Regions from separate parts of the Homo sapiens genome. Here region 1 is linked to region 2. The links come from fine-mapping of genetic effects on gene expression. Tissue or cell type: whole blood. Region 2 holds a variant in brackets; the other region holds the start of a gene. All regions are shown on one strand. Distances are from middle to middle.

Evidence for each region. PIP is the estimated chance that this variant, and not a neighbour inherited with it, causes the effect.
Region 1: IQSEC3-AS2 starts here. The variant in region 2 is fine-mapped to the expression of IQSEC3-AS2 in whole blood (INTERVAL, PIP above 0.99).

What each region holds. Positions count from the first base shown.
Region 1 is chr12:107,510-115,612 of GRCh38, forward strand. It overlaps IQSEC3-AS2 (IQSEC3 antisense RNA 2), which reads right to left and starts at 4,252. Exons shown (of 2, transcript NR_184284.1): 1 at 4,110-4,252. The region is part of intron 2 of IQSEC3 (IQ motif and Sec7 domain ArfGEF 3); the gene reads left to right.
Region 2 is chr12:83,009-91,111 of GRCh38, forward strand. All of the region lies in intron 1 of IQSEC3 (IQ motif and Sec7 domain ArfGEF 3), which reads left to right. Among named protein-coding and RNA genes, the nearest start is that of IQSEC3, 20 kb to the left of the region's middle. The variant G/A (reference allele first, on the strand shown) is at 4,731.

The DNA.
Region 1 (8,103 bases), 25 kb after region 2:
CGCCATTCTCCTGCCTCAGCCTCCCGAGTAGCTGGGACTACAGGTGCCCGCCACCGTGCCCGGCTAATTTTTTTGTATTTTTAGTAGAGACGGGGTTTCACTGTGTTAGCCAGGATGGTCTCGATCTCCTGACCTCGTGATCCGCCCACCTCGGCCTCCCAAAGTGCTGGGATTACAGGCGTGAGCCACCGCGCCCGGCCGGTAGTCTGTTTTCTAACTACCTTTTTGTTTATTCTCTGGCAGGTCACATAACACCCACACACTTGTTTAACAAGGGTGTAGATCCCTATACACCCGTAATTCTTGAGTATTGCATCACACATGGCCTGGGGACCCCAGTGACCTCCCTTACAGAGTATGGATATCAGTTCTCTCCTTGTGAGTTTGCTTATCATTTCGGTCCCATCAGGGAGCACCCACCTCCCATCCTCAGTTTGAGTGGCCCTATCTTGCCCAGCTCTTCCTCCTCCTCTTCAGAAAGTTGGGGTTTTAATACCACCTTAGGGATATCTGGGATTAGGCCAAATAGTTTAACTTCTACCTCCAGGGAGGCTGCTTAGCAGCTTTATCCACAAGCCTGTTCCCTAACCCTAACCCTAACCCTAACCCTAACCCTAGCTTCTATAGAGTTTCCTTTCTGATGGCCGTTTACATGAACTATGGCTACCTCTGCTGGAAGCAGGAGGCTTTTTAAAACTTGTTTGACCAGTTTCCCATATACCAATTCTTTCTACCTGCTATTTATTAGGCTCCACTTTGTCCAGATCTTTCCAAAGGTGTGTACTACTCCATAGGCATATCTGGAAATAGCATATACAGTGCCTTCTTGGCCTTATATGAGCTTCAGGGCTTGGTTAAGAGCATGTAATTCACAGGTTTGGGCTGAGCAGTTATTGGGTAATCTACCTTTTTCTCATAAGGTTTGTTTGTTTCCATCAATGACAGCCTGGACATTGTGTCTTTTACCATCTATCACTCAGGATGGCCTATTCACAAACAGCCTCATTCCATCGAGTAGTGGAATTTCTTTAAGGTCTGGTCTAACTTTGGTTTGATATTCTATCATATGTAAACAGTTATGGTCTGATACCTGCTTATTCTCCTCTCATTTCCGTAAGAAACTGACTGGAGTTCATTTAGGCGCCTTTCCAGGGCCCACTGACCCCAGGAGGAACTTGAGGAGGCAAGGGGCTGACCAGCTGGCCTTTCAGGGTGTCTTTAGCCGGGCTCTGCCGGGTCTGGCTCTGGGCCAACAGCTGCTGGTTTGAAGAGCTGCCAGCCTGTGGTGCCTTCCCTGATGGGCACTCTCATCAGCAAAGGCATCCCTGGCTCCTTCTTTGCTTTGAAGGCACCATCCGTCTCCCTGGCAGGCCGAGAGCTGCACTGTTTGTATTCCACGCCACCCCTGCTGGTGACCCAGCAACTGCAAAGGGTCCCAGGTTTGTCCCGCTCTGGGAGGGGACTTGGTGGCTTTTCGTCAGCTGCAAGGGTCGCCCCTTGGCCCAGCCCAGCTCTGGGAAACAGAACTTTTATACACCCCACCTCAAAGCATCCTGGCGGACTTCTCCCCAGCACGCGCTCTCTCTACTTCAGGGATTGCAAACTGGCATTTTCTATCACCTGTATTGGGTTATTAAGTTTTTTTAACTGATCACCAGCATTTAAAAATCCTGTTTCACATAAAAAGTCAGAATTCTGGCCTCTGACAAAGCAGACAGTCTGGCAACACAGGGCTGGCACTGTGAGAACAGTCGAGCAGCTGCAGAGGTGTGCCCTCTTCAGTTAGCCACAGTCCCCATCCAGCCCTGCAGCCCTCCTTCTCACCATTTGCTGGCCGTGTTGTCCTTTGAGTTTATAACCCTAGTTCGGATCTTCCTTATGTAGCCCCCCGGCCTCTCTGCAGCCTTACTGACGGCTGCCCCTGGTGGACTCACAGCCTCTCAGTGAAACAGCAGCAAACCTTAATGCTCATCTCATCCACTCACCCTTCCACATCCTGAACCCTTTCTACACCCTCCTGACAAACAGCCATCTAGTCTTTGCCGTACGCAACCCACTATTCCTCAGGCAGCCTGATCCTAAACTCTCCTCCACATCCCCTTCTCACTTGCATCCCCCAGTTCCCGGACCCTGTCCCTCCTCAGTGGCCGCACTGCACCCTTTCCCAGCACCTCCTTGTTGCTTGAGCCTCTAGAACCTTCCCCCAGCCCTGCCAACCTCTCCACATCCTCTCACTTCCTCTTGTACTCTTTCTTCCTTTTGCATTATTTTTCTCCCCAGTCTTAACTTTGGTGTCTCTCTTTGATCTGTCTTTTCCAGTCTCTTGCTCTCGCTCGTTTTCTTTTTCTATCTATCTCTATCATCCTGTTTCCTTTTTCCCTCACACTTAGTTTCTTTCTCTTTCTCTCTCTGGGCACAAGCTAAACTGTGCTGGGCCCTGGCCCCTGACAATCTGCAAAGATGGACAGCTCTGTCGAAACAACAAAGATTCAGCAACAACTTTTATCAACAGCTTTCAGCAGCCAGCTTCCACACACAGTTGTGTGGCCGCCTCTCCCTTGCCTTCAGGGTCAGCAGCTTAACTCTTTCTCTCTCTGGCCCTCTATGTTTGCCATTTCCTCCCCTTTGTCTTTCCAATTTTCTTTTTTACTTTTTCTCTTTCTCCCTTTTCCAGTTTCTCTTTTCTTTCTTCTTACAAAAACCTTCTGAGCTTCCCTCAGTAATTCCTTAATCGGTTTTTCATTCCACCTATCAATCTTTTGCAGTTTCTTAGTAATATCAGGCCAGCTTTTGTCACAGAACTAAGTCCTAAAAGGCCTTGCCCTACTGGGTGCTCTGGACCTAATCCTGAATATTTTCTTATTTGATCCCTGAGCCTCTGCAGAAATGCGGAGGGAGTCTTCTCTTTTTATTGTTGGATCTCGAATGCTTTCAAGACATTTTGTGTTCTAAGAGTGGACTTTTTAATCCCTTTAATTATTAGTTCCCTTGGGTCCTGCACTGGGGCCTGATCTCTGAGGTTATTGTTATCCCCTCTGGGATTTGCATTTGGGAATTTCTGCTCAGCTGGCAGGACTCCTTACCCGGGAGAATGGGGTCTCTCCCAAATGGTCATGGCTGCCCTTATAATCATTCCCCTCTCTTCCCCAGGAAACAGAATATTTATGATTGACATTATCTTAGCCCAAGTATAAAAATGGGGTCATAAAAATTGATCTAGCTGCTCTGCTAAACCGAGGGGGTCTTCCCAGAGTGGCCTCATTTTCTTTTTAGAATTCTGAACCTCAGTACTTGCTAGAGGCACACTCACAAACCCAACAAACCCAACTCCTCTCTGTCCCGTAGAGACTTCTCTAAGAGGGTACCTGTTAGACATCTGCTGTTTAGAAGGAACGGGGAAATTCTCAATGTCCTTCTTACATTGTTCTAATTCTTTCCTCTAGTTTGGATAAGGATTTAAGGAAGCATTGGGTTTAGCTTCTTCGTGACCCCCCGATTCCTCTTCCTCCGACCTTCTTGCTGCCCCCCGATCGCCCTGTTCTGTTCTTCCTGAGATGTATGGGGGGGCAAGCGTGTTAGGGGATCCCAGGGCTTTTCATTGGGTGAGGGCTTTTTACTATGCTCTTTTTCTTCTTTTTAAAGGGGAACATGGGGGTTAATTCACTAATCCAACAAAGAGCATAACCTGTCTCCTCTCGTGAGGATGGAGTTTTATTATTCACAGAAAATTAAAGCTTGGCACACCCAATCCTCATCTGAGCCAAACTCAGGCCAAAAGACCAAAGGTTGACGAATGGGCTTTTTGGGCCAGATAAAACAACAAACTTTATCATCTTTTGCTTTTCCTTGTCCCTGGTTTGAGGACTATCCCTTCAAACCTGCAGCATTCTCCCCAGCGGACTATTTGGGGGAATGTCAGAAGGGTTCTCTTTAGTTCCCTCTTTCCTCTGTTCTCTAGGCCTAGAATTCTTGTTTCCCATTTTTGGTTAGTCTCTGTGTCTGAGCTTTTCCCTGTGTACTCAGCCTCCCTTACTGGAGGTTTCTTACACACCCCAAGACCTCCGAAAATGCACAACTACCAAGCAGTACTTACAGATCAATTTTCCTACCTTGGCTCATGCGTGAGGTTGCCTGGTTGCCTGCTTTTCTCCCTGTGTCACTTTAGTTGTCTCCTGAATAACAGTTTCAGGTTTGTCTATGGCTTCTTCGGGGAGCTGAGACACCTGGACAGAGTGGGCCACACAAATCGAGTGGGACACATCTCCCCTGTCAGCTGGAGTCTCACTCCATGCAGGCATGGAAATCCCCATATGGGCCACCAGGTTGTGAGAAACAGACTCACCCGTCCAAACCCAAAGAATGGACTCAGAGACCCAGAGAACAGCGAAAGTGAGACTTGTGATGACGGTCTTGCAAAATCGGGTGTCTCTTGAGCAGGCACACCCAGCACAGTTTCAACAAGCAGTTTATCCCCTAGTGCACAGGTCTCTCCCCTGGTTCCTCATAGGCTGAGTATTATGGGTTACAATCTTCCCGGATGATGCCTGTTCATTGCTGGGCAGGGGCTGTAGGTGGTTTTTTAGGGTTGTTTTGCTCCATTTTGTTGCAGCCCACAATGCATTGCAATCCTAGCTAGCTCAGGGGCTCATAAAGTATTTGATTTATGACCGAAGTAGCTGGGCAGGCTGATAAGAACAAACAAAATGAACTATTTTGTAGGCTAGTAAACTTTCATCTTAGACTAAACTTCTTTGGTTCGGGGAGGGCAACTAAGGAGTGGGGAAGTGGGGGGAAGGGGGATGGTGGGGAAGTGGGGGAGGCCGAGAAGCAGGCATCAGCTATCCAAGCAGGGGCCTAGTGTATCCTGTTTCTTCTGTAGTTTGCTGACCTAAGCCAATTCAGGCACTTCATCCTGGAAATGGCCCACTGTATACATTATTTCCTTCAAAGAGCCAGGGGAGTAAGAGAAAGTGTCGTGTGACCTAGAAGCTTGGGATTTGGAAGGGAGCCGAGGGGAAGGGCAGACCCAGGCAGCACCTGGGCTTCCAGAAGAAGCTGGTGCTTCCACCACACTGACCTAGACAAGGCACAAGGCATCCCCCTCTTCTCTGGGCCCCAGCTTCCTCAACCATAGCATGAGGGGTTGCACTGTCTAATCCCCAAGGCCCTCTACCAGGGATTCTGTAAGAAGGCATTCTGCATGGCCAGGGATGGGACCTGCTCATGGAGAGACCCAGGGCAATTGCAAAGCAAAACAAATGGCAGGTGGTGGGGTGCGAATGTTGACCCTCTGGTGAAATGCAGTATTGGAGCAAAAGAGCATGGCAAGGGAAGCCCTCTGTAGGCCTGTGCACTGTTTTTTTTCCTACATTTCACTTATTATTGTAAAAATATTATCATAATATTTTATTATTAATATTTATTATTATTATTTTGAAACAAGGCAGTTTCAAAAAGGAGAAGAATTTCACCCCACTCATAGTCCTGCAGAGGATCGCCTCTCATTGTCCCTCTTCTCCATTCGTCTTGGGCAGTGCGGCCTGGACACTGGGAAGTGCCCCCGGAATGCCACGGGGAACAGCCTGGCCCCCACTTCCTTCCCTCCATGCTGGCAGCTCTTAGCGTTTATCCTGGGCTTGGATGCAGTTTCTTGCACTCCAAGGACAGAAATGATAGGAATGATGAGGGTTTTAACAACCAGCATCGATACTGCATTTTCCGAGTTACAGAACTCCTTCTGTCCTTCTGCTTACTTGATTCTCACCACAAGGATCCTCAGCCTCTGACCTTGTAAACAGTCAGAAGGGCAAGAATCACTGTGTCCATTTTACAGCTGAGGAAATACTCGGAGAAGATAAGCAACTTGTTGAAGGTCACAAAGGTAGAAGCAGGCAGAGGTTAAGACCAGAGCCTATGCAAAGAGAGGGCAACAGTGGAGCAGAGGCTTTAAACCTGCTTCTTCCTTGTTCCTGTTTGAATGTGTCACCTTGCTCACTCCCCAGGTGCCACTGCCACACGGCCTGGTGGGATCTTGGTGTGGTCACCATGTTCCATGTTTATACTGAAGCTTTGAAGTCTTGGAGAATCAATTAGGCTGCCATGAGTCCTCAGATTCCTCAGGAATCGAGGGAACTGACTCATCAGAAACAAACTCATAAGAGACTGACATATCATATTAGTATGAATTTACGAATTTGTAATGAGAAACTGTCCTGATGAACAGGATACTCATGTTTACTGATCACTGAAGAACTTAAAAATAGCGAAGGTCCCTTCCCTCCCCAGGTGCAGAGGAATGAGCACCACATGGTTTTGTGGATTCCTTTCTAGCTTGGAAAGAGAAAGAGAGAGGCGAGGAAGTGGCAAAGGAGTTCCCTGGACTAGAAGATAAATTCAGAACTTCAGGGAATCACTGTAATGTGTGGCACTTGAAAGCATAAACCAGATAATTCAAATCTAGGTTCAGGTCCTGGCTTGGCCACTCACAAACTCTATGACCTTGGTTAAATTCCATAAGCTTTCCAACCTTGAGTTAACTCATCTGTAAAAGGAGCATAGCACTTAACTTCTTAGGGTGTTTGGCAGGATTAAATGTGATAATGCCTGGAAAGGTGTCCAGCATCTAGTAAGGACTGCATACGTGCTAGCTATGTTAAAGCTGGATTTTCGAGGGCAGAGAGGGAGAACTCAAACAAGATTTAAGGTCTAGAAATTCAGATATGACTAGGGAATGTTTAGAAAGTACAGGCCACATGCTTCATGTGATGAGCCTCTGCTATGGCAAGCATGTTCTTCAGGTTCCAAGCATGTTGTTCAGACACACCTCAGGGACCTGAACAACATGCTTGCCATACCAGGGGCTCTGGCAAGGTCTAGTCCGTCCCATGGGATAGCAGGTGTTGGGCGTGGAGAAGAGGCAGTCTTTCAGATGTTTCTGTTCAGGCCCAGCTCCTGACATGGAGTGGTGGCAGGATAGAGCCGAATATTCAAAAAGAGAGAAAGAGAGAGACTCTGAGAACTGAAGGACAAATTTGGGGAAGAGATCAAAGAAGCTAAAGACCCGGATGAATGTCAATCAAGTAGGGCCAACAGGCTCAGAGAGGAGATTTTCTAGACATCAGGGCAGGAGAGGAAATGATTTAACTCAGCAACAGGCTGCCACAGTGAAGACTGGGATGGGATTAAGATCGGAAGCATTTATTTTATCAGCCAACAGTTTGACTGCCTGTTCTCCTGAGAGAAGATTGTTTATCCCAACAGGGAAAGGCTTATGGCCTGGCACTGTCCCCTGGCCTGCCCCATGGGGTATTCCCCATGCCAGGATCTCTAAGGCTTCTTCCAAAGTGTGTCCTGCAGAGACAGTGAGCAGATATTCCATTGTCACACATACAGCAGGAGCCTAGCACGTCCCTTCCTCTTAACACTTGCAGAGATAACACATGGAAGCCACAAGGCATGCGGGAAACAGTGTGGCCAATCTGATATGTGCAGCATGAAAGCCTGGAGCTAGATATCAGGTAGGACTTCCAGTAGGACCACTGAAGATAAGGACGTTAACTGCAGGGAAACAAGTGGGGAATCTTGCTCCCTGGTAACTAGCTAAATGTCCAGAGCAATGTCCTACCCTACTGGTAATTCTGCCATTTCCATTTCTTGGGTCACAAGACTCCTGTTTTCAGCAAGAATGCACCTGACCTCCACAGGCACCTGTAGGTCATCAGATTTCCTCTGGCATGTGGTAAACTTGGGCCTGTGAGGAGCTGTTCTTCCCTGGAAATAGCTCAGGACCCAAGAAACATGTGCTCTGCTGGGGTGAAGTAGGGCTGACCTGGGTTGGAACAGAAGGAAGATGGAATGAAGGGGCTTTAGAGCCAAGAGAATATGAAACACCCAGGCATGGCCTCATGCCTGCCTCTGGTATGGGCTTTATGCACACATGATTTGTGTGGGTCACCATAACAGGGCTCCGCGAGGGAGCTAGAAAGAATGAGACAAGGTCCCTGCTCTCCAGGGAGCAATTAGCTCATGAACCGGAAGCTGGGGATGCATAAAGGGCCCAGATTAGGGGAGAATAGCCACAGTTACCAAGCATCAAGTAGATGC
Region 2 (8,103 bases):
CTGGAAAACCATCAGGATATATCAGCCTGGGCACACTCACTTATCGTCGCATACACCAGGGTTCACACCGGTGCTGTGGGTAATTAGGCTGGCTGAGGCTAGGGAAAAAATTAAAATGTGATGAGCTGGGCTGTACAGGAGAAAGGAGAGGAGGGCAGCTGAGCGTGGCATTGTCATTTAGGGATGGGAAATTCTGTTTAGGTTCCTCAAGGGCCAGAATCATATGTATACATTCATTTCACAAGTATTTGTTGAGCACCTACGGCATGTCAGGGGCACAGGGATTCGCGGTGAACAAGTCGAACAAAGCCCCTGCCGTCATGGAGCTCCCATTCCAGAGGAGAAGGCAGATATTTAACAAGAAAATTCACACACGTATAACAGAAATTCCCAAGGACTAGAAGAAAAGTACGGGGGTGGCTAGGGGGAGGATAGCTCTGAAGAGAAGTCCTCACTTAGGGGGTGGCATCTGAGCAGAGAGATGAAATAAAACAGAGCACGTGAAGACCTCAGGGGAAAGCGTTCCGTGTAAAGGCCCTGGGGCTGAAGGAAAGGCATGTGTTCAAAGAACAGAAGAAGGGAAGGGGGGCCAGAGGGGAGCAAGAGAGGGAGGAAAGAGACAGGGAGAGGAGATGGCATCACAGTGGGCCTTCTGAGGGAGTTTGTGGGGAGAGAGGTTGATGGGAAGGCGGGCGGGGGAGGAGGTGGGTTGAGAAGTGGAATGATGTGATCCACACTAGAAAACAGAGCTTAGGGGTTCAAAGGCAGAGAAGGGAGAGCAGTTCAGCAGGGAGCCCCGGAGCGCCGTGCACCCTTGTTTGGTGTCCACTCATTTATCCAACCTTCCTTTCAACCTCCACTTACTTGATTTCTGCTGTGTGCTCGACATTGCTGTGCATTTGTTATCTCATTTATCCACATGGTACTGACGGGAAGATATTACAGTCCCTACTTCACAGAGGCAAACTGAGGCTCAAAGAGGTTAAGGTGATCCACCCAGGGTCACACAGCTAAAGTGACATCTTCAGGATTCGTGTGTGAGCCTCTTACACCCTGGCATAGCTGTCCTCACTGTAAGAGGAGTCCCCTGTGGTGTGGGAAGTGCTTCCCCCAGGCAAAGCCTAATCTGGGACAGAGACCATTGTTCAGGAACAGAAAGGCTGGTGGCATCGTGCCCATATGACAGTTGTTCACGTTGCTGCAGCTCTGAATTTGGCCCGTGGCCCACTCATCTCAGTGCCCAGCCTGGCAGGACTGGGCTTGATGACTGGCAGAGTACCACCCACATGCAGCCACAAGATGAATGGTTTACAGGTCCCCATGGGACATCACATCCCTGCGTGGCCCATATGGTCAGGAGGGTTCACATAGTGGACAAAACATCCTTGTTCTCAGCTCTGCATGTGTGCGTGTATGCCTGCACATGTGTGCACGGGCAGGGTTGTATGTGAGAATATGTATGTGTGTATGTATGCATTTACAAATCCAGGAGTGTGCACACATGTGCAGGATGGTGTGTGCATAGGTTTGGGGCGTTTAGGACCTATGTGCATTGTTGTAAGAGCTCTGAATGAGTGCATGAAGGGAAGCCTGCATGTATATGTGTGTCCACCAAGAGGTACGGGTGTATGTTTGTGTGTACACATCTTTGTGCACCCAGGCAGGTGTGTATGAGTATGTTGAGCCTTTGGGTTTAGCAGATTCACCAGAAGCAAACAGCTGTTTTTGTGGGCATGTGATTGAGGTACCTGAGCAGTCTATGCTAGAAGGTCAGTTGAAGCTCTGGAATTGGGGATTGGCTGGGTAGGTTTTGATGTTTCTGTCAAACTTCAAGAGTCTGACTGTGCTATGAAGGGCAAGATCAAGGCTCTTCCACTCACAGCCCAGAGGCCACCTCCTCTGCAGATGCCTGGGGTCAGGGGGTACAGTGAGAATGGATGCCAGAAGCAGCGTGCAGCAAAAAAAGTCAGAGCTGTGGGTCCTCGGGAGGTCGTCAAACCTCCGTTAGCCTCAAATGGCATTAATAATAATAATGACATTAATTATCATTAGTATCATATTTTTCCATGGGATTACTCTTAGGATGTTCAGAAAGGTTTTTTAAATCAGAAACATGCATAAATGCAGTGTTGCTATTGGTCAGGACTTGCCTTCGCCATTCCTGGAGAAACACTGCGTGCCCACAGCTGACGAAAGGTGGGTTAGGAACGCTGTGGAGGCATGCTGCCCTGGCGCTGTGAGGCAGGACTTGGTGAGGAGCAGCCTCAGAGCCTGGCAGAGGCCCAATGGCTTTGATCCGTCCTTTCAAGCTGGCTTTGCCTAGCTGCCAGGCACCCATCTGCCAGGTAATACAGAGATCTCTTGTGAGGGAAGCTGGCAGGATGCAGCCACGGGCCCAGCTCTGCAATTCATGCTGTGCTGCCACGCCTGGCACTGGGAGCCCTCTTGGCTCCCTGCAAAGTCTGCTGGAGTTCAAAGAACTAGGCCTCAAGCTGGGCAACTAAATGGCTCTGGCATTTCTGACAGTGCCACCCTGCTGGGCAGGAAGAGAGACAGTGGCATGGAGCTCGAGGACTGACAGCAAGCTCTCACTGTTCTGGGGCTGGGCTGAGTGGCGGGGTGAGCATGGCCGAAAAGGAAGCTAGGGCCTCCTGGCATGCTCAAGTTACAGCCTGGGTTTCCTGTTCTGAGTTAAGCTCCCCCAAGACTGCCAGGTAGATGCCAAGGCTGTGATACTGAGCAAATATCTTAGACTCTCTGAGCCTCCTCATCTGTAAAATGAGGATTAGTTATAGAGATGTTGTACTGCCTTGAGCGTGTGTTGATACTGATGAGTAGGTCTGTGTCTCTAGCATGTGTTGTGCCTTTGTTTCCAGGCATGTGCATGTTTCATATATGTGCACACTTAATCCCCCATTTCTCTCCAGCACCCTTAGGAATCGGGATTTATTCACACATTCAGTCAACAAACCATTTCTGCTCTAAGCCATGTGCCAGGCTATGTTCTGTACTGGATGTAGAGATGAATTGGTCACAGGCATGGCTCTGGAAAACTCATTCTAGTATAGGGAGATATGACATGTATATAAACATCAGTGATACAGAGTGGAAAAAATAGATGTTGCATTCCACTAATGTCTCAGGGAAGCTGCTGAAGGAGTTCAGAGGTGGGCGCTTCCGGCCTAGGTGGGGCAGAGGCCAGCAGGGTTGGGGGTGAGCACAAAACAAACAAGGGAAGGCTTTGTGGGAGGAATGTCTTTGGCACTGGACTCTGAAGGCTGGGCAGATTCTGGATGTCTAGATTTCTGAGAAGCCTGGGATCACTGGCTGAGATGGCCATCACCTTTAGCCTATTTCCTAATTGTAACATGGTGGTATGGGTACAGGCTTTGCTGTCCCCATAATACTGTGAGGCTTTGGAGTGTGCGGTAATCGGGTCTGGGACAGTGAGGGCTTACTCATTGGACCAGGCTCAGATCTAAGCATTTTAGATCTGTTAGCTCATTTGCTCATCACAATAAGCCTTCGAGATAGATGCTGTCCATATCCTATTTTATGAGTAAGGAAACTGAGGCTCAGTCAGGCAAAGATATTAACAGGAAAATAGCAAAGACGGACTTTGAACTCCAGACAGCTCCTGCCTACCCCATATCAGCGCACGGCCTAGTACAAGCATTTTTGTGTGTGTGTGCCTGCTCTGTGCTAGGTATTGTACTAAGCACAACACAGGTATCTTGTTTGACCTTCACAACAACCTGATGAGGTCATTTCTTGTATGACCTCCCTTTTACAGTTCAGGAGACCGAGGCTGAAGAAGATCAGATAATCTGCCTGTGATTCCACACCCATCTTTTGGAAGGGCAAGGATGCTATGCAGGTCTTCCCAGATCCTTAGATCTGGGAAGGCCTACAGCTCTCCGTGAAATTGTGCTCTCTCCTGTGGTTCTAGAAAGGGCCTCCATGAAATTCCTTCCCCAAAGTGTTCTGTGGCTCCCTCTCAGCTATATGCAGGTGCACTCCTAGGACCAGAGGCAAATAACCAACAACATGCTGTGAGAGCTACCTCAAAACTCAAAATAACAAAACAGATCTCTGTTTTGCTCAGAAATCTGTAGTTTTGGCAGAGCTTATTGGGGACAGCTTTTTTCTGTTCTGCATCATATCTGCTAGAGGGGCTTGGAGGATGGAGGTTCATTATCAGGATGGTCATCAAGCGGCTGTCAAGCTGGGGATGGCTGTTTGTTCCTTTCCATGCACGCCTCTCCATGGAGTCATTTGGGCTTCCTCCCAGCATGAAGGCTGATTTCCTCTCATCACCATGCAAAAAAAGTACTAGGAAAACCAGGGCAGAACACTTCTCTGAAAGTCATGGGAGGGGAGTGTTTCAAATAGGGAGATTTGGGCCAACGTATGCTACAGAAAAGTGAAGTCAGACGCTGAGAAGTTCTTAGATTTGGCAACTAAGAGATCACTAGGGACCTCCCTAGATTAAATTCTGCTAGGCCTCTGGGGGAAGAACCCAGATGACAGCAAGTTGGCAAGAGATCAAGGTGAAAGGAAGCTCACACAAGCAGACAACTCTTTTTGGAAGACTGACTGCAGAAGGAAAGAGTTGTAACCAGGGGAGCAGAGTTGTAGGGAATAATCATGGTTTTAGGATGAGAGATTTGAGCATGTTTATATGCTGAAGAAAAAGGGCCTATGAAAATAATGACACTGAAGACCAGTGG[G/A]GGAGGAAAGGGGGTAAAGAGCGATAGGGCTTGGAGGGAAGGCAAACAGCTCTTCCTTGAGATCAAAGGTATCAGAAGTAGGACACATTCATAACAGCTACCATGTATTAGCCGTGTTCTGTTGTAAGGGCTTTCAAAGTGTTTTAACTCATTTCATCCTTATACAGTCCTTTAAAAAAGTTCTGTTGTATACGTGCGGTTAGGTAGGATTCCTCAGGAAGGATTCCCGCAGGCTTCACCGAAAGGAGGACTATGGCGGGCCCTTGCAGGGAGGGGCACGCAGCACCTCTCTAAGGCCAGCATGACTGGACACGGCAGAGCTGGCTTCCCGAAGCAGCAGGAGGGCTTCGGGTTAGAAGCATGTTTTCTCAGCTGTTTCTTAAAAAAGGAAACTTATTTTTTTCAAAATTAAACCTAACAGATATTCCTAAGACATAAAACTAACCAAATCAGAGCTTCATTAGTTGAATGGAAGGTTCTGTGCTCTGCCTTCTCCATTCTCCTCTTAACCTTAATAAGGTCCCTGCAGCAGCTGGTGGGGCACTGGGCCTCTTCGGAGTACAACAGAAAAAACACTGAGTTACTGCAAGACCAAACTCATACTCTTTTATGAACATCTGAAAAACGTACAGTGTGTTTTTAGGAAAAACCTCACTGAATAATAAAGGGGCAGGTCACTGTTTTCCTAGGACTCTGTTATCCTTCTTTTCCTTGATGGCAGAGGCATGGACTAGAAGAACGTCAAAGCTCCCCCAAAGAAAAGTGAGCAGAGAATCAAAGAGAAGCAAGTCCTGGAGAGCAGGGGGTCCCTGTGGAGATTCCATCCTCTGGCAGGCTTGGGGCAGAACACTGAACCTGGTTGGCCAACCTGGGTCTGGATACCAACAGGCCAATGTTTTCTACAGCCTTTTGCCCCGGCTTCTGGAACAGCTGTAACTGCTTGCCTTATTAAGATCTTCCCAAAGCTCTCTGTGGAAGACTGTACAGTGGTAGATTGCACCAGTGAGCAAAGGAAATCTACCTCTCCCTCCACAGCCCCCAGGCCTGCAGAAGAAAATAGGGACCAGAAAGAAGGAAGTCAAGATGGCATCCTGGTAGGGCTCTGTTTGAAAGAGAATTGTGGTTGCTGAGTTTCTCAGTAGCAGAGACTAATAATATCAGTAATATTCATTATAAGGTTTTGCATTTGTGCAGGGTTTATTATGTTTCTCTCAAGGTAGTTTCATATTCAAGTCTTGCTTGAATATGAATCCCCCACAGTTCAGTAAAATAAATAAGGCAGGTGTAGGAGCCTTGTTTACCATGACCTGACCCTCCCAAAGGTGAGCATAGAGTAGGGGCTGGGTCTGCATCTCCAGCCCAGAGCTGTTTCTATCAAACCTTCTAGGGACTCTCAGTCCTTAGGCCCAGGCCCCAAATTTCCCCCATTCAGCCATCCCCACCCCCAATTTTCTCATTGTCCCAGTTTCTGGCCCCCTGGACTCCTTTGGCTCAGTGATGAACCATCTAGTCTCTGAAAATACAATCTAGCAGTTGAAAGGAAAGAAAAATATAATGTCTTTTTCTACTGCTTGGAAGGGGGTTAATCATTAGGTGATCTGGGGGCAATGGGTGGAGGGAAATTAGAAAGGAAATTATTCTAAAGCCTCTTGATAAAATAGCAAGAAATGAGAAGGAAGAGGAAAAGATTTTGGTCTTTTTTCTTTTTAAAAATCAGTTGGATTAAGCTAAAATTAGATACAATAAAATTCAGCCGTTTTACATGTATAACTTGATGAGTTTTGAAACATTACACTTGTGTAACAACTATCTCAGTCAAGATACAAACATTTTCATCAGCCAAGTGACCCTTTGTTCCCTCTTACAGTTCATCCCTTCCTTCCTGCATTGCTGAAACTTACCTCTGTCAATATAGTTGTGTCTTTTCTAGAATATTATATAAGTGGAATCATACAATATGGAGTCTTTTGTGGACACCTTCCTTTATTTAATACAACGTTTATGAAATTCATCCATGTTGGCTGATGTATCAGTAAGCATGTTCCTTTTTATTGCTGAATAGTATTACATTGAATGGACATACCACAATTTATCCATTTGCCAGTTAGTGGACATTTACATTGTTTCTGGGTGGTTTTTTACATACATGAATAGTTTCGTATCAGTATAACTTTTTGTTTATCTTGGGTAAATACCTAGGAATGCAATTGGAAGGGTATATGATAAATGTATGTTTAACTTTAGAAGAAACTGCAAGACTGTTTTCCAAAGTGTGGCACTATTTTGCATTCCTTTCAGAGGTGTATGAGAGTTCCAGGTGCTCCGCACCCTTGTCAACACTCGGTTTTGTCAGACACAGATTTTATTCATTCTAGTGGGTGTGTAATAGTATCTGCTTGTGGTTTTAATTGGCAATTCCCTAATGACTAGTGATGTTGAAGATCTTGTCGTGTGCTTGTTTGTCCTTAGTATATTTCCTTTGGAGAAGTGTCTGTTCAAATCTCTTGTACATTTTCCTATCAGGTTGTTTGTCTTTTTATTATTGAGTTGTAGCAGTTCTTCAAAGAGAAAAATTGATGTACCTTTTTCATTTCAATGAAGGCTAACTTAGCAATTTTTTTGTTTCGTGGCTTGTGCTTTCTGGTCCTATCTATGAAATCTTTGCATATCCTAAAGCCACATATTATCTTCTATATTTTCTTTGAGATGTGTTATGGTTTTATCTGTTATTTTAAGTCTATGATCTATTTTTTAAATTTTTATGTATGGCATAAGGCATGGATTGAAGTCTATTTTTTTGCATCTGGATATCCAGTTGTTTCAGCACTATCTGTTAAAAAGTTTATCATTCCTTTTTGAATGCCTTGGTACTTTTACCAAGGGTCAATTTATGATATATGTATGGATCTATTTCTGGCTTCTCTTTTTGTTCAATCTGTGTGTCTATTCTTATGCCACCACTGCACCATCTTAATTATGGTAGCTTCATTTTCAGTCTTGAAACCATCCAGTGAAGTCCTACAACTTGTTCTTGTTTTTCAAAGTTGTTTTGGCTATCCCCTCCTCCTCCTCACCCCAGGAATCAGAGGTTTCTGAAAAAATAAGGGTTTCTTTTCTTCCTATTTATTAAGTTTAAATAGAAAAGGCTCTTTGGAGGAGGTGAGAAAATTAAGAGAAAGTGGAAAAAAATCCAGTCTGCAGGCTCCACCAGCAGTAGTGATGGTGGTACCAAGATGGGTGGGGATGGGGCAGGTGACCAGAAGCAATTTTATGATTTCTCCCTTCTCCTGGAGCTCAAGGCAGCTCCTTTAGAGAGGTTCCCTGGCTGTTTCCTTCTGAAGGCTGGGGATTCAGTCTGCTATCCTCAGCTTGG